Homo sapiens: one gene and its partners. The protein of the gene in region 4 purifies or fractionates together with the protein of the main gene of each other region. This does not show direct contact. Each region holds a gene or a part of one and is shown on either strand. Other genes may lie near its edges. The genes, in order: PPP2R1B, PPP2R2C, CUEDC1 and ZNF114.

What was found.
Region 1: the proteins of ZNF114 (region 4) and PPP2R1B purify together in Homo sapiens (affinity purification with mass spectrometry; 3 studies listed by BioGRID and IntAct, with this or other methods). This does not show direct contact.
Region 2: the proteins of ZNF114 (region 4) and PPP2R2C purify together in Homo sapiens (affinity purification with mass spectrometry; 3 studies listed by BioGRID and IntAct, with this or other methods). This does not show direct contact.
Region 3: the proteins of ZNF114 (region 4) and CUEDC1 purify together in Homo sapiens (affinity purification with mass spectrometry; 4 studies listed by BioGRID and IntAct, with this or other methods). This does not show direct contact.

The regions. Positions count from the first base shown.
Region 1 is NC_000011.10:111,742,376-111,749,400, forward strand, and holds part of PPP2R1B (serine/threonine-protein phosphatase 2A 65 kDa regulatory subunit A beta isoform), read right to left. Parts: intron 5,640-7,025; coding exon 5,579-5,639; intron 1,156-5,578; coding exon 1,001-1,155; intron 291-1,000; coding exon 148-290; intron 1-147. UniProt on the Homo sapiens protein: The PR65 subunit of protein phosphatase 2A serves as a scaffolding molecule to coordinate the assembly of the catalytic subunit and a variable regulatory B subunit.
Region 2 is NC_000004.12:6,462,611-6,469,635, reverse strand, and holds part of PPP2R2C (protein phosphatase 2, regulatory subunit B, gamma), read left to right. Parts: intron 1-7,025. UniProt on the Homo sapiens protein: The B regulatory subunit might modulate substrate selectivity and catalytic activity, and might also direct the localization of the catalytic enzyme to a particular subcellular compartment.
Region 3 is NC_000017.11:57,868,395-57,875,419, reverse strand, and holds part of CUEDC1 (CUE domain-containing protein 1), read left to right. Parts: intron 1-1,702; coding exon 1,703-1,829; intron 1,830-2,564; coding exon 2,565-2,757; intron 2,758-4,050; coding exon 4,051-4,134; intron 4,135-6,226; coding exon 6,227-6,298; intron 6,299-7,025.
Region 4 is NC_000019.10:48,280,081-48,287,105, reverse strand, and holds part of ZNF114 (zinc finger protein 114), read right to left. Parts: intron 5,555-7,025; coding exon of another isoform or gene 5,417-5,554; intron 4,736-5,416; coding exon 4,609-4,735; intron 1,346-4,608; coding exon 228-1,345; 3' UTR 1-227. UniProt on the Homo sapiens protein: May be involved in transcriptional regulation.

The DNA of each region.
Region 1 (7,025 bases), on a different chromosome or scaffold from region 4:
AAAATAGTTGCTAAATTATTTTCTTTAAGCAAACCCAGATCTTAAGTAAAGTGAAAATCCCTGAACTTAATTTTAGCTAATTACTCCCCACTATAAGGTAAAATTTAAAGTACACTTTTAAAACAAGACTAAACACTAAAATCTTACTTGGTATCTAGAATTGGTCCAATCTTTTGTAGAGATTTGGCCACATTGAAGCGAACATTTGCTACTTGGTCTCCTGCCATTTTTAATACGATGGGCAGCATTTGCTTAGTAGTTATTTCCTGACCACAGGCCTCAGACAGTGCCTAGAAAAATAAGTAAGATGGCACATTTAAAATACTTTAAAAAATTCCAAAATCTAATGAAACAAATTAATATTTAATAAGAAAATAATTGACCAATAGGAAAATATTTCTAGTTTGAGCAGCTGAGTGGGGGACACAAGAATCATTCAAATGATCAGAGAATTAGACCAGAATTCACAAATAAGTTGAACTTTTAAAATACTGTAGTTTTGTTCTTTGTTTTTTTTTTTTTCAGGCGGAGTTTTGCCTTGTCGCCCAAGCTGGAGTGTAGTGGCGCGATCTCAGCTCACTGCAACCTCTGCACCCTCTGCCCCCTGCCCAAGGTTCAAGGGAGTCTCCTGCCTCAGCCTCCCAAGTAGCTGGGACTACAGGCATGCACCACCATGCCCGGCTAATTTTTGTATTTTTAGTAGAGACAAGGTCTTGCCATGTTGACCAGGCTAGTCTCAAACTCCTGACCTCAGGTGATCTGCCCGCCTCAGCCTCCCAAAGTGCTGGGATTACAGGCATGAGCCACTGTGCCCAGCCAATACTGTAGATTTTAACATGAATTTTAAAATTGACATTTTCTCTCATCTCCTGTCTATTCCAATTAATCAATACAAGACATATATTCCAAATAGAAGACAGTATACTGATAATTCAGAAATAGTCATGAATAATTTTGCTTTAATGATTAAGCTTAGCAATAACAGTTATGTTATACTTACATTAATGCAGAATAAAGTGGTCATTCTATGCAAGTAATTAGGATCATTTGCCATTACTAACACTTTGGGAACAATAGTATTTTGGGCCCACTCTGTACCAAACTTCTGAACTAGTTTCATGAGGTTGTTGGTGGCAGCTTCTCGGATGGCGTATACTGCAGAAGAGGTCAAAAACATGTTCTCATATCGCTTATTGTTTTTTAAGCATAACCTAGTTTACTTACATGAAAATCAAATGTGGACCAAAAGCAAAACCCCTCTGCAATCAGACTCCACATGTAATCATGCTGCAATGACAAGCATGCTCAGCTCCAACTCAGTTTCCAAGTGTGCATATCCACAGAAAAGGGATGCAAGGAGCTCACCATATGCATCATCAATTATTTAACAAATACAAGTGCCTACTATGTGCTACAAAAAGAACACAGAAGATACTTTCCCTCACAAGAAATATGCTCTTATCAGAGAAATGAAAGCTAACACACTCCATGAAGTCACATGGTGTAAGAGCAATTAGAATGAAGTGTGGCATTGTGTAGTAAAGGCTGTGAGGGTTGTAGCAGTGCAGAGAAGAGTGAACAGGGAAGGTCTAGGAAGGCTTCGGCACAGAAAGAAGCCTTGACTGGGCAGTGAAGATTTGGGAGGATCTGTGTAAGTGGAGAGAAGCGGGGAGGAATTCCTAGAAAGGGTAAAGACATGTATCCAGGACACAAACAGAAAAAACTGAAACCTGTGAGACTTCTAAGTTAGACAATTAGGGTGGACCCAGACTGCAGAGCATTATGAAAGACTTAGATTTGATTAGGAAAAACAGTGATGGGTTTTTAAAGCAAACTTGTGACCTGATGACCAATGTGGAATTTTAGCAAGATTATTCCAGCAACATCACGGAGAAGCGACGTTGACTGAGAAAGACAACAAGGAAATGGTGTAGAGGCCACTGTGGTCATCTATACAACAGCAAATACAAACATCAGACTGACTTGCTTCCTCTCCATGAAAATGCTTAGGTTGAAACAAGATGTCAAATGTCTTTGAATCAATGTGCCTGCCTTAACATCTAATAATTCCCTATATCCTTTGATCATTTATCAAAGACATAAAGCTAGATAATAAAGGTCTCAGCTACAATCCTCTCACAATTAGTTGCTATATACAGCACTGAACAAAAACAAGCCTGGTGTCACTTCACTTTACAGATCCAGTAAGACTCAAAATTTGGGCTCAGATTAACAAATCGAGGGTGGTAGGTACTAATTCCTTATTCTACTTCTCTCCCCAGGTGGGCCCAACCTTCCTGGGATGATAGGAAGGGCAGGAATAGCTATCCAAGCCACAGTCCCAGTCCTAGGCAATTTATACAAGCCTCCAACCAAGAAATAGGCAACTTCTTCTATTCATAGATCCTTCTGGGCAATGATGTTGAGAACAAGCAAGACAGCATAGACAAGTGACCCATACAACTGATTATCAACACTTAAACTGACAGTCTACAGGAGAAGCAACCTTTCGGTAAGACTCAGATGCACTAAGGAGCAAACTCAAGTCAACTGTTTTACTGTAATACAGATTCCTTCCCTTCATATCCATAGTCTTTGTCTTTGGCCCAAACCCTTCCCTGTCCTCCCCACTAAAGAGGAGCTAGCTAGAGTATTTGTGTCTTCTCCTCTAATTTTTTTTTTTTTTTTTTTTTTGAGACAGAGCCTCACTCTGTCTCTCAGGCTGGAGTGCAGTGGCGAGATCTCGGCTCACTGCAACCTCCGCCTCCTGGGTTCAAGCAACTCTCCTGCCTCAGCCTCCTGAGTAGCTGGGATTACAGGCGCCCGCCAACACATCCAGCTAATTTTTGTGTTTTTAGTAGAGACAGGGTTTCACCATGTTGGCCAGGCTGGTCTCGAACTCCTAACTTCAAGTCATCCACCCGCCTCAGCCTCCCAAAGTGCTGGGATTACAGGCATGAGCCACCATGCTCAGCAAATTACTATTTTTTTTAACACGCTTTAGATTTTTATCATAATGCCATTACCATAGGAAGGGATCTCTACTGCCAGAAAAACCAGAGACTGGGGAACACACATGCATAGCCTTGACCAAGACCTTAACTGCACTGAACTCTACTTGGCCAGATGCCTACTATGTTCTTGGTTCCTCTGACTGTTTTCAGAAGAATGCAAACCATTCCAGAGTTCTGCCTGTTTTCTTTTGTCTATTTCTGTCTCTTTCTCTCTCCCCATCTCCTCTCAAGGCCTGGCTGACCTGCAAGGTTTCTTTGAATGTCTATCTATGCTCAATAACTGATACCTTCTCCTTTCTCCTATAATAAATAAATAAATTTCCCTTCTACATTCCTCCCTCTGATCAAAACTGTCTACTCAACCACAGGAATATAGGTGAGTGATACTTTCTTCCTTATACTTCTCTGGAATTTTCACAATGTTCTTTTAGTAGTTACCTAACTAGGGGAAAAGTTTCAAAAACTCTAACTGATCCAGTGATCATTATATAACACTTATCTGAAATGCAAAAGCAAAAAAGCTCCTGTGATTAAGTACAAAACAATTTCAGAGCTGTTATTTCATTGGTTCATGGAACTCTTGCAGTCCCCACTTCAGCATGCTGCTGCAGTGAAATAAACAAGGGTTTCTCCTGCTCCCAAACTGAAAGAGAAAATCCGAAAAGAGGAAGGAGTAATCAAGTTGCATAGAGAAGACAATCTTACAGAGAAAGGGTGCCAGGAATTTAATTCTTTGTGGAATATTAGAACTTTAAAAATTCCTCAAAATAAAACACCATCTTAATCTAAAATGCCAACTTTTAAAGAAAGCATAGAATGACTTGAGGCCAACCCAAATGCCCATCAATGACAGACTGGATAAAGAAAATGTGGCACATATACACCACGGAATACTATGCGGCCATAAAAAAGGAATGAGTTCATGTCCTTTGCAGGGACATGGATGAAGCTAGAAGCCATCATTCTCAGCAAATTAACGCGGGAACAGAAAACCAAACAGTACATGTTCTCACTAATAAGTGGGAGTTGAACAATCAGAACACATGAATACAGGGAAGGGAACATCACACACTGAGGCCTATCAGGGGGTGAGGGGCGAGGGGAGGGAGAGCATTAGAACAAATACCTAATGCATGTGGGGCTTAAAACCTAGACGACAGGTTGATAGATGCGGCAAACCACCATGGCACATGTATATCTATGTAACATAACAAACTTGCATGTTCTATGCATGTATCCTAGAACTTAAAGTAAAATAAAATTTAAAAAAGCACAGAATGATTTGCTAGGATGCACCATTCCCAGTAACGTCAAATATTTATCAGATATAACATAAACATTTTTTTTAAAAGTGGTATTTCTTTCCTATGATTTGCCAAATTTTAATTTTATTTAAAAAGAAATAAATAGGCCACAATAAGATAACTTTAGAGAAGAAAAAGAGAAAGAAGTCTACAATCCAGTTTGAAAACACTGGAAATACCCACATATATAAGCCCTTATACATTTTCACATATTTTTTCACATCCTTCCTCTTCACACTCTTAACCATATGATCCTCCATATGATGCAAACATGCCTTTAACAAAACCACCCACACGTATAAGCAGACACAAATATCCTCATTCCTCCCAAATTTCCAGGCATAAGCACCCATAGATGAACAAAGAGATACACTAAATACATATATCAAGTATATAAAAGATACTGTGGAACTGACTCAGGTTATCTATTATATCCACCAAAACATGGAAACAAAGCTCAAGGACAATGTCACATGACCCCATAGGGGCACTCACACTCATCGAAACAGGTCTAAGACAACACTGAAGCTGTCAAGTCTGGACCTGGGATCTGGCAGAGACGGTACATCTGTCACCCACTGCTGCCTGGCACACAAGGGGATACACACATATACCTCTACCTGAAGCCTCACCAGGAAGTCACTTGCTCATTCCTGCTGTCCTATCTGACCTGCCCTGAGCTCACCCTCTCCTAGCACTGTAGCAGCAGCAGTGAGAGTACAAGCAGTAAGCCTTCCTTTCACCCAAACCAGAAATCCAGGCCCTCTCTCTCCCTATGGCAAAGCTAGTGTTTCCCACACCTAAGAATCCTCTACTGTCTCACTGTAGATCTCCTCTTCTATGTCACCTCAAAAAGCCAAGTAGCCATTTCTCCCACCCAGGCCTTTCATCTGATTCCAATCTCCATACAACCTAGTGTATAGCTGCTGAAGACACCAATTACAGGATGGTCAAAAAGAGGATCTTCAGATAAGGGAGGAGTAAGTAGATATATAAAAGAGATGGTCTGAAGATAATGTAATAGATTGAGTAAGAAAATAATGCAAATAAATTGTTTAATGGAGAAAATAAAATCGAAGATACAAAAAATTGGTAGAAACGTCAAATTTATATTCAGAAGATTAAACTTTAATTAGAGCCTTTCTTCATTCCTACAATATTAAGGCAAAATATCTGGTCAGACTGAGATTCCTTTCTAAAAGGAAATGTATGAAAATCATGGATATATGGGCTTTCAATAATCTGTTTTTATCTACTCACCATGGTCCACGAGCCAAGCCATACATAAAGAATTCAGCTTTTCATCAAAGAATTCCACACCCTACAGATACAGAAGATTCCATTAACATACATTGCCAAAATTCAGAAATAAAGATGGTCTATTTACATTACACCAAGGTTACCTGAAGGCTAAAAAAACTTGTTTCCAAATAAACAAATAAGAGATAGAAACACCACAGGAATTACAAACAAACCATAAATCTATTTATTGGACGGAAATCATAAACAAAAAAAAAGCATACGTGAGCTGGCATAGGCCCTGCTAGGTAAAAGAGAACAGGGTGGCCAGAAGTCAGCCACAACACTGCAAAAGAGCAGGAAGAATGCACTGTGTATGGTCTGCCAAGCAAATCTGGATTACCTGTAAAAATGAATTACCCAGGAAAACACCTGTCAGTAATATTACTAATTCTCAATCGTCTTCCCTTTTTGGTTACTATTATGACAAATCCTTAAGGATAAAGCAACTGACCTCAAGACATAGAGATATCCCCAGTTAAAGAGAGTATTTTCGAGACAACAGGAGAAAGCCCTGGAGGGAGAATAAAGCAGGCCCAGGACTACAGGGCATATGGCCCAGGCATGGCTTGCTCTCCCAGCCCTGTTCCTCCCGACTGTCAACAGGTGGCCACTTCAGTGCAGGCTGGGGATGGGCTCCGGGAGCAGATTTACACAGTCCTCTAACCCCGGGGCTTCCACACCACATGGAGAATGCTGTGACACACTTTCCTAGTGCCTCCCTTCTGGGGTCTACACATTTACAGTCTTGCTTCTTTGAACTCTAAGAAGTTCCTGACTGGTGATTCTATATTTTAAAAAAAGAGAGGTAATATAATGTGTCAGTGCTTTGAAAATAGTGATTGAATAAGACAAAATAGCTTTTTTTTTTTGAGATGGAGTCTCACTCTATTGCCCAGGCTGGAGTACAGTGGCACAATCTCAGCTCACTGCAACCTCCACCTCCCGGGTTCAAGTGATTCTCCTGCCTCAGCCTCTCAAGTAGCTGGGATTACAGATATGCAGCACATGCCCAGCTAATTTTGTATTTTTAGTAGAGACAGGGTTTCACCATGTTGGCCAGGCTGGTCTCTTAACTCCTGACTCAGATGATCCGTCCGCCTCAGCCTCCCAAAGTGCTGGGATTACAGGCATGAGCCACCGCACCTGGCCCAAAATTGCTTTGTACTAAAAGATCATAATGAACAAATTTTGGCATACACTTAGATTACGTCAGCCAAGATTTCTTTTTCATTTCAGGTTGAGAATTTTCCTTCAGTTTTAATTAACTTTTATTTTCCAGTTTGTTGTTGTTGTTGTTGTTGTTGTCGAGACGGAATCTCTCTCTGTCGCCCAGGCTGGAGTACAGTGGTGCAATGTCAGCTCACTACAACCTCCGCCTCCTGGGTTCAAGCAATTCTCCTGCCTC
Region 2 (7,025 bases), on a different chromosome or scaffold from region 4:
TTGTAAAGGGAGAAATAATAACGACCTTTCATACAGGGTTGCTGGGATGATCAGTGATTTTGCTAATATCAAAAGTGCCCAGCACAGTGCTTGGGTTGTTGGAGGCATTGAACACATGGCATTGTTATTATTTATATGCCTTGTAACTGGAAGAGCCTGTGGGCAAACAGTGGATGCTAAAATTCAGTTTGCGGAAGAACCAGGTGCACAAACTCCTGTTCTACCTGTGGTTGAGTCTACACTCCCCCACCACACCCCAGCTGCTCTGATCTACCTCCTGTTCCTTGAGCAGGCCATTTTCTTTCTTGCTTCAGGGCGTTTGCAATGGCTGTTGCCTGGAATACCCACCTCCTGCCTTTCTCACCACTGACTCTTTCTCATCCTTTGGGCCCCATGTCCAATGTCATCTTTGCCCGTGGGAGCCCTGCTTGGGTTCCTGAGTCTCTTGTAAAATCTCAAACATCTTAGGAAGAGTTTAGGTTTTGTTAGTCATTCACATCTTGGTGTGAATTCGTCAGAGCAGGTTGGATTTTTTTTTTTTTTTTTTTTTTTTTTTTTGGTGGCAGGGCTGGGTGGCTTACTCTTGGCTGGGCTCAACTGCATTGAGGGTTATGGTGATGATTAGGTGTACCTGCAGGCCACCTGGGGGCACAGAGAACTTTGCATGAATGGGGTCAGGGTGTGGGGAGAGCAGTGCAGCTGATAGGGCACTGGGCCCTGGGCCCTGGACCCTGGAGGGTGCTAGGAAGTCTCCATCTAGTTAGACATTTCTCAAGAGCTGGATATGGTTCCAGGAAGGACTCTTCCTGGCTCTGTTCTTTCTCTTTTTGCGGCAGGCCTCAGTACTTAGCTTTAGAGTGAGTTGAATAAGCACTTCCAGACTAGACTGAACTTACAAAACCCATCCATCCTTCCTTTGCTTAGCACCATTTGCCAAGCACATCCTGCCCTGGGCAGCAGTGATGACCAAGACACAGGAGCTCAGCCAAGGGGAGGTGGTTCAGGCTGACCAGGTAGATCCTGGCAGTGACTGGGTCTTTCTGGGGAGCAACAGTCACTCTCATGTGCCTGACAGGTAAGGCACTTCCGGAGCACACTTTTCAGCTGAGGCCAGAGGCACAGCTTCCCCTTGTTTGAGCATCTCAGCCATCACACACTGTTGGACACTCATGCTTTTTGCATCTGCATAAAGGATGTACCCATGTTTTCCTAACTCCCATCCCTGGATGTCCTGTGTGATTTCAGAGTAGTCTGTTTATTCCCACAGAGTTGTCCTGATTTTATAGTTGAGGAAGTGAAGGATGCTTGGGAATTGCTAAGGTCATCATGGGGTCCTGAGGCTGTCTGAACGCAGCAGGCAGGCAGGTTTTCCTGCATGGAATTGTCTGCAGGTTTTGAACTGGTTGTGCCCTGGATACCATCTACTTTCTGCCCAGGAAACCACACTGAAGAGGGGATGCTGCTTGTGGGAGACTCAGCATTCAGTGAAATCTGCACCCTTATGGTGGACGTTGCAGCTGATCTCCACAACAGTTAGTCTCTCTTCTTCCAAGGAGAACACATATGGTTCCTAGTAAGAGATCTCAGGCCATAGCTGGATGTGATCAGTGCAAGGATGATCTCATTCCCCTTGCAGTGACTGGTTCCAGAATGGATGTGGGAGTCAGTTCTGGAGGTTGAGTGGAAAGTAGGGAGAACCACAGGTAGTTGGTCCCTCTCTTGTGATGGGAACAGGGAAACCTTGTGGTGGCTGGCAGCCATCTGACACCATGAGGGGAGCAAGTCTTAGGCCACCACCGTTGATGGCAGGGCAGAGAGTGAGTGAGATCCAGGACATAGAGGCCTGATGTCCAGGCCGCCTCTGAACTTCCAGTTACATGAGCTGTTACTTTTCCTTTTCGTTGTGCACTTTCAAGTCTCCGTTACTTGCAGCCCATAGCACCCCAACTCGTACAGCCCTGACTGCTTATCAAGAAAACCAGGAGGCTGATCTGTAACCCACAGCTAAGACTCGAGATACATAAAACCCAGAGGGATTTTTGTTTGCTTTCTGTTTTGAGAACCCTCTTTCATTTCACTCAAGTCAAGGTTGCCAATTTCTGGTTTTCCCTCCTCAGTCCTATTGAGGAGGTATTTTTGGTCAGATAAGAGAGCCTGAGATCTGGCATCGGGAGATCTGGGTTCCTGGTGGGGTCTGACCCTGGGTCTGTAATATTGGGCAGGTCACACGGTCTCTCTGAGCCTCAGTTTATTCTTAATAGATCAGTAAGTGATGATGTCTATTCTTTAGGGGCCAGAGTTAGACTAGCCCTTAGAACTGTCATCAGACTGGCTAGCCTAACTTCCACCCCAACCTATGGGGAAACTGAGGCTAAGAGGGGGGACATTAGTGGTGGCACAGAGGGAGATTAGGGAGAGTCAGCCTTTGACTTTTGAAAATCAAGATGTGGACTGTTCAGATTCTGTGTTCCTTTCGCTTCTGTTTGGAAACGCCACTTACATAAGCTTCCCTTGGGCTTCACAGCGAGTGTGGGCTCCATTTCAGTGCTGGGGTGCCCTCCATCAAATCACATCACTTTCTGAGCCTCAGTTTCCCTGCACTGCCTGGTGCCCTGGGTTGTCATGAGGCTGTAAGGAGCCAAGGGCATGTGGACTCTGAAGTTCTACACGTGTAAAAGGCGACTGCTGTCAATTTCCCCAAATTGTAGTGTAGGCCAACTCCCACGCCCCTGCTGTAAGCAATGTGCTCCTTTCTTTTTAATCAACCCGAACTTAAAGCTTGGCGCAGTCACAGAGCACGGTTTTTCTCATTTTCTTTCTGGAAGATGAAAATCAAATTCTAATAAAATTTTTCCACTCCATCTCCTGACTGTTGTCATTTGCTACACTTTTTAGTGTTTATCCTTAAAGCTTGCAGAGCTAAGGGATGTTTGGTAAGAAGTGTTTAGGCCTTGAGACTGGAAGAGCCGCTGTATGAAGCGCTAGGCTCCATGGAGAGTGTGATGGGGAGTAAGAGAAGGAGAGTGAACTCCTGTGAGTCCACCAAGCAGAGGGACATACTCTCAGCAACTGGGGTATTTCCTTCCAGTCTTTTTTTAATGCCCATGTCTGTTTTTAATGAAAACTGTAATCTGTCTGTATCAACAATTTTGAAGGCTACTTTTCTAGTTTGGCATGAGATTATAGGAATTTTCCAGGGCTTTGCTCCAGGGCTGGCTTCATGGATATGCAACCTGTGTGGTCATCTAGGTCCCCACACTCAGAAGGACCTGTGCTTGGGTTCATGTTCTGCTGTTACTATCTTGAAATTTTTAAGAATTTCACTTTGGATCCTGTGTTTTGTAAGCGAAATCTGATGGGACGGGGGAGCCTGGGAATGAGCAGAGGGGTACGTGTGGCAGGCGAGTCTGTGGTTACACATATTGGCTCCCACAGCACGCTACCCTGTGTTCACTTGAGCGTCTGAGCCCCATGCACAGTGGACAGCTCATGCACCTTCTCAGTGCGTCTGTAGTTTCACAGGCAGGGGCCATGCTTTCAAATAATGCTCCAAGGCATTGATGTTCTCATGCAGTGACTTCTAAGAAACATGAATGACGCAGGAACCCTATGGTGTCCTTTCTTAACGTGTGTTACGTGCCCATATTTGCCAATCGCTGACACTGAAAATGATTACACAGAAGGGAAGGGAAAAAGAGGGCACCTATAGTTCCTTTTCCTCCTAGTCCTTCCTTGTTTATTATTGAACCAAGGGTAGAGGGTGTTGGAAGAATGTACACATATCCAGAAATGAAATAAGAACAGTTAAGTTAGTTTCCTCTGCTCTGGTAAGAACAAAATCCATATGCGAAATATAACTTGTGCATTTTGGTGAGTCTACATTCCAGTTACGTGCTCTTATGTTTGCATTTAAAATTGGAGGTGCACACTAGAATGGTGAGTGATAAAATGCACGCTAAGAGTTTAAGCTTTTTTTTTTTTAAATTTGAATTGACATTAAATAGCAAATAACACCATGACAAAATATGGAAGGCATGAAAAGGTTTTGTATCTTAGCACCTTTAATGATGCTTTTCCTTTGCTTTTTGAATAAGAGGCTCTGCATTTTCATTTTTCCCTGTGCCCCACGAATTATAGGGTTGGCCCTGCTCTGCTGGAACTCTGGGTAGGGTGAACTCCTTGGCCCTGCCTTCTACCTCCTTGGCTTTCGTGATTGGTGGAAATGGTGAGAGCCTGCCATCCATTGGGCAGCTCTTCCCTATGGGGAGGGGTTACAATATTAAATGTCCGTGCTCCTCTCTCACCCATTGGGTCCATGGGCCTCTGACTTCCAGGTTGCTCTACAGGGGAGAGGCCAACAGTTATCTTATTTTACAAGCTAGAAGTTAGACCTACCTCTCCCCGCAGGACCAAGGGGTGGGGAGGTGAAGTAGGGGTCCATAGCTCTTTTTTTTCCTACAGGTTTACCATTAATAAAGCAGATTTTTTTATTCCTGTCTTGCGGCCAGTCTTTTCTGTGTAATCCCAAGTCCCAGCAAGGAAGAGGGGTGACTGGTTACCTTGGCCCCGCCCCCAAGTCACACAGTACACGTATTGACAACCATCATTTCATTGGCTGCATACTATTCCTGTGATACATGTGTCATCATTCAGTAGTTCAATTAATCATTTCCTTATGGCTGGATATTTAGTTCCCTCCCTTCCCTCCCTCCCTCCCTTCCTCCCTTCCTTCCTTCTCTCTCTCTCTGTCTCTCCCCCACACACTTTCTTATTTTCATAACTAACACTGCAGGAATGAACACCATTTGTGTGTGTGAAGACCCCCTACTCCCATCGTTCCCCCTTAACCTTGGGATGATGCTCTTCAGAAGGAATTCCACACGTGCTATTTCATATAAAGATCACTAGCATTTTTAATGTTGTTGACACACATTGGCAGATTATTCTCCAGAAAGTTTTTCTCTTTAACCACATGCTGATCAACATTAGGTAGTCTAATTTGTTTGACCTTTGCAAATATCAAAGATGAAAAATATTTATTGTAATTCACGTCTGCATACCAATGAGGTTGAACATTTTTTCCTTTTGTTCAGCGGGTATTGGCTGATCCCTGTTATGTGCCAGGGTGACATTAGATTCTAGACATACAAAGTTGAAGAGCAAGGCTGTGTCTGCCTTGAAATGTGGACTCTCCTCTCCCAGTGTCTTGGGTGCCACTGCGGGACCTAGCTACTTCTCAGGAGAGAGTCTGAAGCTGCTGGAGGAGTCTGTACATCCCTCAGCACCCTGGGGAGTCCTGTTAGTTACACAGGGCCTTGCAAAGACAGGCATCTCACCATTAAGCCCTTGAGCAGAATGATCCAAGTGGACTTTAGGATGAAATAATTACAAAACAAACACAATAGCCATTATTATGATTCACCATTTATTGGCTATGTACTATAATACTATATGCTGGACATGAGGCTGCGTGCATCTCATTGGAGATGCCCCAGACCTGATGTTGTGTATATTATTTCCCCATTTTACAGAGGAGAAAACTGAGGCTGAGGTGCTTGTTCAATGTCACATAGTTTGTAAGGGACAGAGCTGAGTTTTGAATGCAGCCTGCCAAACCCACGCTCCTGACTGCTACATTAATTGGCTGGGACCCACAGGGCAGGGTTAGGTGGCCTGTTCAGTTCTGATTATGCACCACACTTAGGAGATTTTGGGATTTGAACTAGACTACCTGGCTTGGTGCTCTTGCTATCTGTGTTGCGATGAAAGGCAATCGAGAGGGTTCAGCAGGAGGAGAGACCCCCTTCACGGCACAGGTAGATGGCAGTGGCAGAGGCCACAATTGGACACGTGGTCCAGGGACTGAAGGGCAGGTGGCATTTCCAGGTTGGGGGGTGATGATGTGCTGGGACATGGTATTCTAGCGCATTCTGGGCAGGAGGAACGGTGTGTGCAAAGTGGCATAACACTTGTCCCCTGACAGTGTCCAGCTCCTCTGCTTGAGACCAGGAGGCAGTTAGTTAGTTGCCAGCCGGCCCGGGAGCAGGACACACCTGGGGGCCCCTGTGCTGCCCAGGACAGGCACTGCCCTCCTTGCACAGTGGGGGCCATTGTCCTCCAGAACCCAGGGCTGAATGTCCCATTGAGGCAGAACAAAGGCTGCTCAGAGGTTCCCAGCTGGGGTGTGGGCTGCCGCAAGCAGGGATGGGATCTCCAACTGCAGGCCAAGGGCCTCCTCCAGGCTGGCCTGGCCTCCTGCAGCCCCACCCCCACCCCTCCTCAGGACCAGGACTGTTGCTGCTGGAGGCTGGACCTGGGCTTGGGCTCCCAGGCCTGTGCTCTGGGTCTGGCACAGCTGCCGTGCCCTTGGCAGCTTCTTCATCCCCTGGGCAATTTCCCCATCTATGAAGCAGAGAGAGAGCGAGCTCCCAACCAGCAAGGCTTTCAGGCAGAATTGAATGAAATAGTGCACACTCTGTAGGTTAATCTCAATAAAAGGGAGCTCTTTCATGATCATGATTAGCTTCTGAATGTTTTTTTACAATTTCAAAAAAGTTTTGATGCAAACTTTCAAATTTGTGCCACTTCTGGGCCAAAGTGTTTAAGAAGGGAGTGCACCTTCCCCCCTCCCTCTGTCCCAGAGAAGGGAGAGATGCCGCTCCCTGGAGCCCCTCATCACTCTGTGGAAGGGACTGCTGGCCAACTGTTACAAGAGGAGAAACTTCTTTGCATTTGTGAGAAAATAGTCTATTGAACTGCTTCCAATCTATCAAGATCTTGCTGTACTTCCTTCATTTACTCTCCCCTGCTTTTGGATGAAGAATTTTTAGGCAAATCCAAGACTCCTGTCATTTCCCCGTTCCATCTGCAGGCATCTCTGAGTGTTGAGGGCATTTCTTGTAGCCCAGTGCTGTTATCCCACCTCACAAAACATATCCTGATTCTTTGTTACCTAAATTCTGGTCCATTTTATGAACGTCCCCAGTTGTCTGAGAAATGTCTCTTATGGTTGGGTGGTTTGGCCC
Region 3 (7,025 bases), on a different chromosome or scaffold from region 4:
GGCCTAGCAGCAAGGAAACTCAGCTGAGAACAGGGGCCTCCTCCACCTTGTGCCCTTCTCCACTTGGAGTCTTCATGGCTAGAGGGGTCCAGGTGCACCTCTGAGGTTCTCCCTCCACTGCTTTCCTGGGTGGCTCCGAGGTGTGGTTAAATTGGGGGTGGGCACCCATGTCCCAGATGAAGACCCTGAGACCTCAAGAACTGGTAATACCCCTGGCGAGGGTCCCTCCCTGCTGTAGCCTGGGGTGGTCTGCGAGTCCCTTAGAGATGAGGCTTCCTCTCTCCCCATCTCTGGCCTTTGGAGAAAAATGAAGCCTCCAACAGTGACAGAAGGTGGCAGTGATGTAGAAAAAAATTTGGCCTAGGAATGGGAGTCCCGGGTTGTGATGCAAGCTGCTCTCCAGACCATTCCCTCTCCCCCTGTGTCTGTGCAGGGAGAGGGTGGACGAGGCGTGCTGGGGTTCCCTTGGCTCCAGTCTGCAAGAGCTGAGCTCCCACCAGGCACTTAGCAGCTGGTTATCCCTTCTGCTGCCGCCCCCGCCCCTTCCCCTCGCCCCCGCCGCCGGCCACCCGCCCGAAATAGAAAAGGAAAGGAAGTTATTTCCATAGTCAGCGGCAGCCCGGAAAAGCTCCCCTCCAGTGAGGGGGCGGGCGGGATTCCTAGAGCTGAAGACCAAATCAAAGCCAGGCCCGAGAGCTAGAGCAGCCCCCACCGCCCGGCCCTCGGCTGCCTTCTCAGTGTGCCGTTTTCCTGATTCAGCGGAACACGTGTCCTGCGGTTGCCACGCTGCAGGCTGCCATGGAGCTGTGGGGACCTCCTGGCCGGGCTCCGAGCTGCCCTCAGGCCCAGGGCGGTAGGGCGGGAGCCTGGGGGTCAGGGAGGGTGTGTGCCACCCCCTCTTCCTCTACTGCCTTGCCCAGCTGTTGGCTCTGCCATGGCACAGAGCTCCTGCCACACACACAACGGGCCTGGAAAGAGCGGCCCCAGAGCACCCTGAGAGCGAGATCCCTTCCACACTCACATCTCCACGCACGTTTTCAGAACATTGCTCAGGACACGGCCTCCTGAGGGGCTCCCCAGCACCTGGGCAGGGAGGCAGCAGTTTCTAGATAAGGAAACCGAGCCCTAGAGGGAACAGGGGCCCACCTAAGACTACCCTGCCGGCTGGTGGTTGAGCCAGAACTGGAGCTCAGATCTGCTTTACCCTCTGTAGGGATCCTGGCGTCCCCATATGCCCCTTCCTCAGCAAACCAGCATGCAGCAGGCTGTGCTGTTGGTGGCTTATGTGTCTGTTCCTTTGGACCATACCTGTCACTCAGCACCATGAGCCTGGCACTGTGTAGGTGCTAGGATAGAAGCATGAAAGGATGCGATCCCTGCTGTCTTTAGGGGACATTTGTAAACATCTATGGCTAAATCCACAGAGTTCCACATGTGCACCGTGGACAGACAGCTCTGTAGGTCCAGAGACCTGGAAGGGCACTGAGTGACTGGAGAGCATGAATGGCTGGGGAGTTCGCTGAGGCTGGTGGAGACATCTCCAGTGATGAGACAGAGTGACGGGCCTTTGTTCTGGAGGCAGTGGAGGCCATGGGAATCTCTGAGCAGGATCCGACCTGCCTGAGGACCTGGTGTGATGGGGCCAGGAGACCTGGGGTTGGGCTTAATGACTTCCTCTTCCCTGTCACCTGCCATCCCCTAGTATCGACGCGCTGGGCTCTGGAGCCCCTACAAGCCAGAGACGCTATCGGAACTGGAACCCACCACTGCTGGGCAACCTTCCGGATGACTTTCTCCGCATCCTGCCCCAGCAGCTGGACAGCATACAGGTAACAGGGGCCGCCCCCGCCTTCCACTCCCACCTGCTTGTCCAGCATCTCTCTTTGCCCACACAATTTGTGCCAGCCAGTTTTACTTCCTGATGTTTAAACCCAGGCTGAGCTATTTCTGTTGCCCTGGGTTCGTAGGGCAGGAATGCTGAACTGAAAGCCTCACTTCCTGCCTGGGCCTGGAGGTTTCCTGTTCTATCCAGGGAAGGTGACAGCCTAAGGAGGCTGTCTGCTGCAGCAGTCACCTCAGGCTGGAGAGAGGCGGGCATGGGGTGGCCAATGGTGGAGGGCCAGAGCACCCCCCTTCCTCCCTTGGGAAAGGGCCAGAGGCTGCTTCTTGCTAGATGTTGGCATGCCCCAAGGTGCCCCACAGCGGGGCAGGTCCACCCTGAGGCTGCTGGTGCAGGGAGAGGGTTGAGTTTGGGAATTGACGTATAGGCTGTTCCACAGTCTGCAGATTTGTTTTCAGGACTGTTCAGGTTGTAGATGAAGGTATGAGGTGGTCTGTGGCGTGGGGGAAAAATAGTTTTTAGGCTACTGCTGTGTCCCCTGCAGCAATGGCTCTGACCTGTCCGTTGGATTTTGGCTCGCAACCAGGTTCCATTAGGAGGTGTGAGCCTCAGGTGAGGGCTGGAGGATGTTGGACAGGGCATGTGTGCAACCAGAGGGATGTGGACGTTTGTGCAACATGTACCCTTGTGTGTACACATTCAACATGCTCGCTTCCCTCCTCAGGGTAACGCTGGGGGCCCCAAGCCTGGGAGTGGAGAGGGATGTCCACCTGCCATGGCTGGGCCAGGGCCCGGAGACCAGGAGAGCCGCTGGAAGCAGTACCTGGAGGACGAGAGGATCGCGCTTTTCCTGCAGAACGAGGAGTTCATGAAGGAGCTGCAACGGAACCGCGACTTCCTCCTCGCTCTGGAGAGAGGTGGGCAGCGCCTGCAGCCACTTCTCCCTGGCTGAAGAAGGGAGGTGATGCTGGCTTTAGCCTTGGGGCTCAGGAAAACACTGAGCTGGGGGCTGAGGGGGCCAGGTGCTTTCTGTCCTATTGAGGCATGACTCCCACCAAGTTATCCCATGGGAGCCTCAGAATTCTGCCTATGGGGACCTGGGTCACTAGCCCACCCCTTTCTCCCTCGGGACTCAGAGGAAGAAGGATGTGCACTCTTAGGCCTTCTTCCCTTTGCACACCTGCTCTGTGCCAGGCACTGGCCTTGGCACAAGGCAGCAGGGAGAAGAGCACTGCCCCTCCTCACAGAGCCCCAGCCCCAAGGCAGGCGTGATGTGTCTGGAGCTCCGGAAACAGAACGACTGGGTTCATGAAGGCCAGGGCGGGGGAGGCTCTTGAGTGGAAGACTTTAGAGCAGGGGCTCTGGAACTTTGCAGGTATTTGGGTTGTCTCTGGGTTGGAGACCCTGCTCCCTAGCCTGGCTGCCTTTCCCCTGCAGGGTGGGAGTGCGTTTGGGGTAGAGGAGACGAGAGGGCTGTGGAGCTCTGTCCCTGTGACGGCCACAGCGTGAGAGCTTGTGTGTGTAACTGATGGTGTGTTGGTGGGGGAGGAGCAAGTTGTGGAGGGAGAAGGCTGGGCTGAGGCCCAAGGTTAGCCCCAGCTCTGCAGCAAAGGTGCTAGAAGCCTCAAGGCTTTTCCGTTTATTTTTTATTTTTTGAGACATAGTCTCGCTCTTGTCACCCAGGCTGAAGTGCAGTGGCTCAATCTCGGCTCACTGCAACCTCCGCCTCCCAGGTTCAAGTGTTTCTCCTGCCTCAGTTTTTCAAGTAGCTGGGATTATAGGCGCACGCCACCGCACCTGGCTGATTTTTGTATTTTTAGTAGAGACGGGGTTTCACCATGTTGGCCAGGCTGGTCTCGAACTCCTGACCTCAGGTGATCTGCCTGCCTTAGCCTTCCAGTGTGCTGGAATTACAGGCATGAGCCACCATCCCTGGCCGTGCCTTTCTTTTTAAATGAGGGGGTTTGGACTCTACAGTCTCTCTGAGTCCTTTTAATTCTGACATTTGAGATGGCTGTCAGGCGGTAGTTTCTTTTACTGCTGGTTCTTTGAGAGCTGGTAGATGTGTGCACTCATATTTTGGGTGCCCGTGTGTGCTCATGTGTGATTCTGGGGACTTAGCCTCTAGCAAACTACCGTGTCCCAGCCCAGCCTGCCCCTGGGAGCCCAGGAGCTAACCTCCCTGACCTGTGAATGTGGTCCTTTTCCAGATCGATTGAAATACGAATCCCAGAAATCTAAATCCAGCAGCGTGGCTGTCGGAAACGACTTTGGCTTTTCCTCTCCTGTCCCAGGTAACTTTGCCTTCTGGGGAAGAAAACCTAGAGGCATAGTGGGGAGCTCACACCCAACTTTGCTTTGCATATTTGGAGTTTGAGAGGAGGGTGAAAAAACAGATTGTGGGAGGGGGCCTGGGCCTCCTCAGCAGGCTGGCGGGGCTGCTTCTGCCCCCATCTCCATATCCAGTCCATTTAGCAGCTCTGGGGTCTTTCCAATCCAGCCACTGCTGGGCTTCAGAGCCCACAGTTGTGTTCAAGTAACATAGGCTGGCTGAACTCTCAACCTATGCCTCGAGTGTAGGCTAGTCAATGACACATGGCCAGGTGCGGTGGCTCACGCCTATAATCCCAACACTTTGAGAGGCCGAGGAGAGTGGATTGCTTCAGCCCAAGAGTTCAAGACCAGCCTGGGCAACAAAATGAGACCCCCCTATCTCTACCAAAAAAGTACTAAAAATTAGCTGGGCATATTGGCCTGTGCTTCTAGTCCCAGCTACTCAGGAGGCTGAGGTGGGAGGATCACTTGAGCCCAGGAGGTTGAGGCTGCAGTGAGCTGTGATTATGCCACTGCACTCCAGCTTGAGTGACAGAGTGAGACCCTGTCTCCAAAAAAAAAAAAAAGAAGAAAAGGACCCCAAAATGCCCCGTGGTGGGGCTCAGAGACTCATAAGTCTTGGTCTGTGTCCTGGGGAAGCTTATGGTCTTGTAAGGAGAAATGCCCAGAAAACAGGTAGAACAAACTAGCAAAGCTGAGGACTTACTGATTTTAGCAAATGCATGGGAAAAAAGGAGGGCAGGATTAATCTGGGGAGTTTACTCATTCATTCATGACATAGCTGGAGAATATCTGCCATCTGTTGGGCCTTGCCCTAGGTGTTGGAGGAAGAGGAATTTCTAGCTTTGTGTACAAGGTGGTGGGAAGTAAGAATTGCCTGTAAAGAGGGCCAGGCCCTTCTGCTCAGAAGCTCTGATGGCTGAAAGAGGGTTGGATAGGGGTGAGGGGGCTGCAGTGCTCCTGGGATGCGCAGACTACTGGGTTGAGCCACAGCTGGGAACGATGACCTGGTGCCTGTGTGCGAACAGTGGCCCCTCATCAGTCAGTGCCCCCTGCCCCACATGTACACAAGCTGCCCACCTCGGAGAAGGGCTCTTGCCTGGAATAGACCTTGCATCATGCAGTGGAGTTGGGGGTGGAGGAGCAGAGGGATGGGGAGCTGAGCTGATCCCAGCTTGAAGGGAGAAAATCCTGTGGAACTGACTCATAAGCAGCAGGCTGGGAGCTTAGGGCTCAGCAGATGTGCAGCTGGGAGTTTTAAGCAGGAGCCTCTTGTCCTTGATCCTGAATTAACTAGAGATACCGGGGCTGCTGAGATGGATCAGAATGACTCAAAGGGGACTTAGCAGGCAAGGTGACTGGGGATTAACCAAGTTGCAGGACAGAGAGCAGGGGCTTCAGAAACCAGCAAAAAACCCAAGTGGATGCTGAGCGAGCCCGGGAGACTCTGGGTGGCCGGTGGGGTTCTGACTCCAGGACTAGTCCCATTCTATTCCTACTCATTGTCTAATAGCCAGAAACCCTGTGGCTGGGAGGGAGCAATGGATGGGCTTACCTGGCAGGAAGGACAAGGGACTTGCTACAGGTGAATGCCGGCTCTGAGCCAGCACCTCATTTGACTGTCACATGAATGTCGGGGTGCAGGAGGCCCCTGGTGTGCTGGTGAATGTTTCACAGCCAACTCTGGGTGCAGCGGGAGCCTGATATGTAGTGCTTGGTGACCTCCATGGTGGAAATACTCCCAAGCTACCAAGGTGATGTCATGAAACATGGAGTTGGTCAGAGGCGTGGACAGTTGGGAGCACACACGAGCTGGCTGTCTGCACACACAGTAGACCGCTGAACCCTCCCCATTTTTACAGAGGAGGAAACAAAGTCCACAAGGGGAAAGAGGAGCTCCTGGAACTCCACATCCTCCTTGCTTTAAACTCCCTTCTGGCCAGGGAAGAAGCCTGCTCTTTCTTTGCATTTGTCCTCAGATGGGTGGGTAGGGCTGGGACAGCGGCCATGGCTGGCCACGGTGGCCGGCCTTCAGCAGGTGTCTCCTTCCAGGAACTGGCGACGCCAACCCCGCTGTGTCTGAAGATGCCTTATTCAGGGACAAGCTGAAACACATGGGAAAGTGTGAGTCCCACTCAGGCCCCGCTTCCCTCCCCAGCTTTTCTGAGACAGGCCCTGTGGCCTCCCAGGAGTGAGGGAGCCCCTCAGCACATGTAATGCAGCTGACTCTTGGTGAACCAGTGACATTTTCATCGCAGGCTGGCTCCCTCAGCCTTCCTGCCTCACTTCCCTCTACAGCTGAGTCTAGATACAAATTAAGTTTTAAATCCTCTTGAGCCAGATGTCTGCAGAAAAATAACGTGCCACACATGCCCTCACCGCAATCCTCATGTTCACGTTCTCTGTGGCTCGAGGAGGCTTGGCCGGAGCTGACTGCACAGAGAGGCCCTTGCTAAGCCTCTGTGGGGGTGGGGGACCTCTTTCCACAAAGTCCTACCAGCCTTGAATGCCCCCTTCCCTCCCCCTCACCTCCCCGCCACACAGACCCACAGCCATGTGTGAATGAGGCTGCGATCCTTTCAGGCTCCATTTCAAGGAAAATCTCGGATTAGTCATGGAAATCCCAGAACCAACTTTGGAGGTGGCTAGGGGAGGGGCGGGAAGGCGGTGGCGGCGGGAAAGCGAGCCAAGATGCGTTGCAGTGTGTTGCAGCTGGGGAGGGAATACTTGGATCTTGAGCCGCCTGCGGTCCCTGGGCCTGGCTCAGGGTGTCCTGTGCTGCCCCTGCAGGCTGACCCAGGATGTAGCCTCTTGCTCCTGGGGTGGCGTCCTCAGGGGTCTGCGATTCCTG
Region 4 (7,025 bases):
TCGCAGTTTCTCTCCAGGGTGAGAACAAATGTCTACTCAAGATGAATGAAGATGAAAGGCTTTCTGTAGACTTTACCTTCACAGGGTTTTTTTTCACATTTCTGTAAGATACGAGAGTTCAGGGAAGATGTTCTCACTCATGCTAACCCCTTGAGCTCCCTTCCAATATGTCCTCCTCACATGTTTGGTACAGTCAGAAAATTAATGAAAAATTTTCCACCTTCCTTTCATTCACAGGGCTTCTCATCTTTGTGAGTCTTAAGATGTTTTTTAAGTCCTGACGACTTTGCAAAGTCTTTTCCACATGTCTTACATTTATAGGGTTTCTCTCCAGTGTGGCTCCTTATATGTGTATATTTTGAGGACTCCCGAATGACTTTCCCACATTCTTCACATTCGTAGGGCTTCTTCTGCACAACATGCTTTCTTAAATGTTTATTAAGGTGTAAGGAATATCTAAAGGCTTTCCCACATTTCCCACATTCATACGGTTTCTCTCCAGTGTGAATTTTCATATGTCTCATAAGGAATGACTGATAAAAAAAGGCTCTCCCACATTCGGGGCATTTATGGGTTTTCTCTCCAGTGCAATGACTCTTGTGTGAACCGGAATTTGGAGCGTTGGCAGAGGTTGCCCCAGTTTGACAATCCTTCTTGTTTGTCTCTGCGGTATACAACTGCATCTGCATGGCGTGAATTGAGTTATTTCTGGAGGTGTTCTCGCACTGAGTAAAATCATACATTTTCTCTCGACCATGAGTGTTGTGTGCCCTAAGGGATCCGTCTTCACGGAAAGCTTTTCCAAATGGATTCCGCTGGTGCCTGTTGGCCCCCGTATCAATTTCATCACGTATATGATGCACAGTGTTCTGACTGCCAGTCCATGTGCTTGATTTCAGCTCTGTTTTTCTCCCACACGGAACCCACTGAATGTTCCACCCCAAGACTCCATCGTCTTCGTTGTTTTCATGTGTTTTTTGACTATCGTTTAAGACAGGATTATACTTGAAAATACTTGAGTCACGTGTTAGGATACATTGTCTTATGGAATCTCCCTGTGAAGGCACAAGCCTGCAGGTAGGTTTAGAGTGGTTCCTCATTTCATGATCTTCACAAATGCTAACAGGAGATTCATCTTTCTCAGGGGCAACTGCAGGTGGCTTCACATTATTCACCCCCTGCCTGTGTGGTTCCTCTGTTTTGGGGCATCTCCAGTCTTCTCTTAATGTGGAGTGCTGGGAACTGATGCTCGTGAGACACACTCTGTTGGCTTCAGGAAATGTTCTTTTAGGAAGAATATCCGGCTGAGGGGTTGCGTCTTTGGTTTTACATGGAGTTGCCCAATCTGAAATACAGTGGCACAAAAGTTAAATTCTTTGTTGAAAGTAAAGGTGGGTTAGAGATGATGACATAGGCAATCTCCGTGTGGATTTCTCTCTTTCTTTCTTTCTTTCTTTCCCTCCCTCCCTCGCTCCTTCCATCCTTTCTTTCTTCCTTCCTTCCTTCCTTTCTTTCTTTTCTCTTTCTTTCCCTTCCTTCCTTCCTCCTTCCTTCCTTCCTTCTTTCCTCTCTCTCTCTCTCGTTCTCTCTGTCTTTCTCTCTTTTCTTTAGACAGAGTCTTACTCTGTGGCCCAGGCTGGAGTGCAGTGGCATGATCTTGGCTCATTACAACCTCCGCCTCCCAGGTTCAAGCAATTCTCTGGCCTCAGCTTCCTGAGTAGCTGAGATTACAGGTGCGTGCCACCATGCCTGGCTAATTTTTGTGTTTTCAGTTGAGATGGGGTTTCACCATGTTGGCCAGGCTGGTCTTGAATTCCTGGCCTCATGTGATCCACCTGCCTCAGCCTCCCAAAGTGCTGGGATTACAGGCATGAGCCAACGCGCCAGGCCTCTGTGTGGATTTCTTTCTAAATGTTCACTCAACATGTATGATAAAAATGTGAAGGGGAAGAAAGCAAGAGGAAGGAAGCAGAGAAAGACATCAGAGATTCTGCAGTGTCAGGAATGTGATGACGGTAAGGTCAGGGGTTCAACATGGAGAGTGTCATGTTACTGAGGAACAGTTCTGCAGAGATCAAGGAAACGATCAGGAATTCTAAGTGGAAGAGAATTGGACAGAGAGTCCATGTGAAATTTTTATTTTTTTGAGATGAGGGTGTCACTAGGTTGCCCAGGTGCTGGAGTGCAGTGGCTGGCTATTCATAGGTGTGATCACAGCACACTGCAGCCTTGAGCTCTTGGGATCAAGTGATCCTCTTGCCTCAGTCTCCCGAGTAGCTGGCTCCATGTGCAATTTTAAGGAGAAAAGGAACAGGCCTTTAGCAGGGAAAAATGAAAATATGAGAGGATGGATAAAAGTCAAAAAACATAAGCTTGGACAGGCACAGTGGCTCACGCCTGTAATCCCAGCACTTTGAGAGGCTGAAGTGGGTGGATCACCAGAGGTCAGGCGTTTGAGACCAGCCTGGCCAATGTGGTGAAGCCCCGTCTCTACTAAAAATAGAAAAATTAGCTGGGCATGGTGGCGTGTGCCTGTAATCCCAGCTACTCAGGGGGCTGAGGCAGGAGAATCACTTGAATCCGGCAGGCAGAGATTGCAGTGAGCTGAGACTGAGCCACTGCACTCCAGCCTGGGCAACAGAGTGCCTGTTTTTTTCTTTCTTTTTTTTTCCTTTTAATTAAAAAAAAATTGTTTTTAAAGACAAAAAGAACAGTGTTTTGCCATGTTGGCTGGGCTGGTCTCGACTTCCTGGCCTCAAGTAATCCTCCTCCTGCCTCAGCCTCCCAAAGTGCTAGGATTACAGGTGTGAGCCACTGTGCCTGGCCTATAGGTCTCCTTAGCTGCTCTGTAGATAACAACTTGAAAATTATAAAACATTAAGTTTTCTCTTTGAGATATTCCTTCAGGTCCTGCATTCTGATGAAATGACTATGCTCACTGATCTGAGGAATGCCGTGAGAAACTGACGCACCAAAGAATGTACTTTCCTCATCCCGATGATTTCATCCCCCTTCCTCTGACCAATCAACGTCTCCAATTCTCCAGTCCCTTATCCTCCATGATCCCCTTAAAAATGAGAGCAGTGGCTCATGCCTGTAATGCCAACACTTTGGGAGGCCGAGGTGGGCGGAGCACTTGAGGTCAGGAGTTTGAGACAAGCCTGGCCAACACAGTGAAACCCCGTCTCTACTAAAAATACAAAAATTAGCCAGGTATGGTGGTGCATGTCTATAATCCCAGCTACTCGGGAGGCTGAGGCAGAAGAATTGCTTGAACCCGGGAGGTGGAGGTTGCAGTGAGCCGAGATCGCGCCACTGCACTCCAGCCTGGGCAACAAGAGTGAAACACAGTCTCAAAAACAAAAAAAAAACAAAAACCCCAGAACCCCCCAGGGAGAAGAATTTGAGCGTCTCCTCCCATCTCCTCGGTTGGCACCATGTAATCATGCAACTTTCTCTTTTCTCTGTTGCAAACCCTGCTGTCTCAGTGGCGAGCCTGTTGCTCTGTTACCATGCTGCTGGCTTACAAACCTGTTGGTCCTGTAATGTTCACATCTACCTGGTACTGAGATGCATAAATGCCTGGACAAAACTGCCCTGCACTGTTTTCAGACCACTTCTTGCTCCAAATGAGAGGGCAGACTGGGTTTGCCTAGTTGAAATCCTGCTCACTGGGCAAGCATGTGGTATAAAGGAACTGTGCCGAGACTTTCTGTCAAATGGACACAGGCTTTGGTTTGCTGGGGTTCTGAAGCTGATGATGTGTGAATAGAAGTGCAACAGTGGTCCCTCTACTTTTCTCATCAATGCACTAAAACTCTGCCAAAAGGGCTCAAAACGACCCTTTTCCTGTGCACCATGTTCACCTACATAAGGATCCCCCAAATTCTGTTCAATCACGAAGAGAATAAAAATGTAATGCATTAGCTGGGGGTGGTAGAGCATGCCTGTAATCCCAGATACTCAGGAGGCTGAGGCAGGAGAATTGCTTGAGCCCAGGAGGCGGAAGTTGCAGTGAGCCGAGATGGTGCCACTTCACTCCAGCCTGGGTGACAGGGTGAGACCCCATCTTAATGAAAAGAAAAATAAAGGCTGGGTGTGGTGGCTCACGCCTGTAATCCCAGCACTTCCGGAGGCCGAGGTGGGAGGATCACTTGAGGTCAGGAGTTCAAGACAAGCCTAGCCAACGTGGTGAAATCTGCCTCTACTAAAAATACAAACAAAAATTAGCCAGGTGTGGTGGTGTGCACCTGTATTCCCAGCTACTAGGGAGGCTAAGGCAGAAGAATTGCATGAACCTGGGGGGTGGAAGTTGCAGTGAGCTGAGATGATGCCGCTGCACTCCAGCCTGGGAGATAGAGTGAGACCCTGTCTCAAAAAATAAATAAAATAAAATAAAATAAAATAAAATATAAAATAAAATAAATAAAGTAATGCAACAAACTGACTTCCAGTTTCATGGTGAACCCTACACCTACTACCTGGGGGGCAGCAGCTGTGTCTCTGGAATTTAACCCAGTTCCCATTTTCCAATGCACTTCCCAGAACACGGTTCCAAACCAGCACTGGTCCCATCACGGACTAAGTGCAGGAAGGGGGCCTCCTTACCTATGAATGCCAAGTTCCTAGAATTTTCCAGCATCACGTCTCTGTAGAGATTCCTCTGAGCTGGGTCCAGCAGGGTCCACTCCTCTTTGGTGAAGTTCACAGCCACGTCTGCGAAGGTCACCGAGTCCTAAAATAACACATGCAGTTTGGCTCGGAGGGGTGTCCTGTTATCAGTTTGAACTGTGACCCCTTTCTCCACAGAAAAAGGTAGGTTGAGGTCTTAACCCTTGGTACCTGCAAAGGTGACCTGATTTGTGAACTAGAGTCTTTGCAGATGTCAATGAATTAAGATGAGGTTGTGGCCGGGCGCGGTGGCTCACACCTGTAATCCCAGCACTTTGGGAGGCTGAGGCAGGTGGATCACAAGGTCAGGAGTTCGAGACCAGCCTGGCCAGCATGGTGAAACCCCGTCTCTACTAAAAATACAAAAAATTAGCTGGGCATGGTGGTGGCGGGTGCCTTTAGTCCCAGCTACTCAGGAGGCTGAGGCAGAGAACTGCTTGAACCTGGGAGGTGGAGGTTGCAGTGAGCCGAGATCACACCACTGCACTCCAGCCTGGGCTACAAAGTGAGACTGTCTCAAAAAAAAAAAAAAAAAAAAAAGATGAGGTTGTACTGGGGGTTGGGTGGGCCCTAATCCAGTGACTGGTGTCCTTATAAGAAGAGGAAATCTGGCCAGCTGCAGTGGCGTATGCCTGTAATCCCAGCACTTTGGGAGGTTGAGGTGGGACGATCGCTTGAGGCCAGGAGTTCAAGACCAGCTTGGGCAACACAGTGACAACCCGTCTACAAAAAATAAAAAAATTACCCGTGAGTGTGGGCGGGTGCCTGTAGTCTCAGCTACCCGGGAGGCTGAGGAGGGAGGATTGCCTGAGCCTGGGAGGTGGAGGTTGCAATAAGCTATGATCCTCCCACTGCAGTCCAGCCTGGGCAACAGAGCAAGACCCTGTCTCAAAAAAACAAACAAAATATAAATTAAAAAAAAAAAAAAAAAAAGAAGGGGAAATGTGGACAGAGGGAGGGAAACAGAGGGAAGAATGTCATTTGGTGAGGGAGGCAGAGACTGGAGTGATGGGTCCACAAGCCAGGGAATGCCAAGGACGCCAGTGACTACCAGCAGCTAGGTAAGAGCATGGAACAAATTCTTTTTTGGAGCCTCCAGAAGGAAGCAACTCTGCCGCTATTTTGATCTCGGACTTCCAGCCTGCAGAACTGTGAGAAAATCAATGTCTGTTGTTTAAGCCACCCCATCTGTGATAGTTTCATCAGCCTGAACAGCCTAATGCAACAGGAAGAGGTACAGTCGATTGGTAGAGACTGACGTCCGGTCGTATGACTCAGGTGCTCTTTCTTCTGAGACAGGGTCTTGCTCTGTCACCCAGGCTGGAGTGCAGTGGTGCAAATGCAGCTCACGGCAGCTTCGAACTGCTGGGCTCAAGCGATCCTCCCACCTCAGCCTCCCAAGTAGCTGGGACAGCCAGCACACACCATCACCTGTGGCCCTGTCTCAGGAAAAAGAGTACCTGAGTCACGCGACCGGACTTCAATCTCTACCAGTTGACCAACTGTGTGTCTTTCTCATGCATTAGCCTGTTCAGGCTGTTATAACAAACTATCACAGAGGGGTGGCTACTCCTTAAACCCTGGCCGGGCATGGTGGCTCGTGCCTGTAATCCCAGCACTTTGGGAGGCCGAGGTGGGCGGATCACCTAAGGTCAGGAGTTCGAGACCAGCCTGGCCAACATGGAGAAACCCCATCTCAACTAAAAATACAAAAATTAGCCGGGCGTGCTGGCAGGTGCCTGTAATCCCAGCTACTCGGGATGCTGAGGCAGGAGAATCACTTGAACCTGGAAGGCGGAGGTTGCAGTGAGCCGAGATCATGCCATTGCACTCCAGCCTGGGCAACAAGAGTGAAACTCCGTCTCAAAAAAAAAAAAAAAAAAAAAATTTGGAGTGGGGCACGTCTCAGTCCACTGCTTGTCATCTGCAGGTCATGACAGTTGCGGGAGATGCTGCCACTGCCCGCTCCATAAACGCCTAGTGTCCCCTGTGAGACCCTGAGTTCCTTAAGACAAAAACACTTTCTTTTTATTTTACTTTATTATTATTTTTAGAGACAGTCTTACTCTGTCACCCAGGCTGGAATGCAGTGGAGTGATCACTCCTCATTGTGGCCTCAACCTCCTGGGCTCAAGCGATTCTCTCACCTCAGCCTCTTAAGTAGCTGGGACGACAGCCGTGCACCACCACACCAGGCAAATTTGTTTTATATTTATAGAGACGGTGGTCTTGCTACATTGCCCAGGCTGGTTTTGAACTCCTGGCCTCAAATGATTCTCCTGTCTCACCCTCCCAAAGTCCTGGAATTACAGGCTTGAGCCACTGCACCCCACCAAAGACACTTTCAGCTCCTT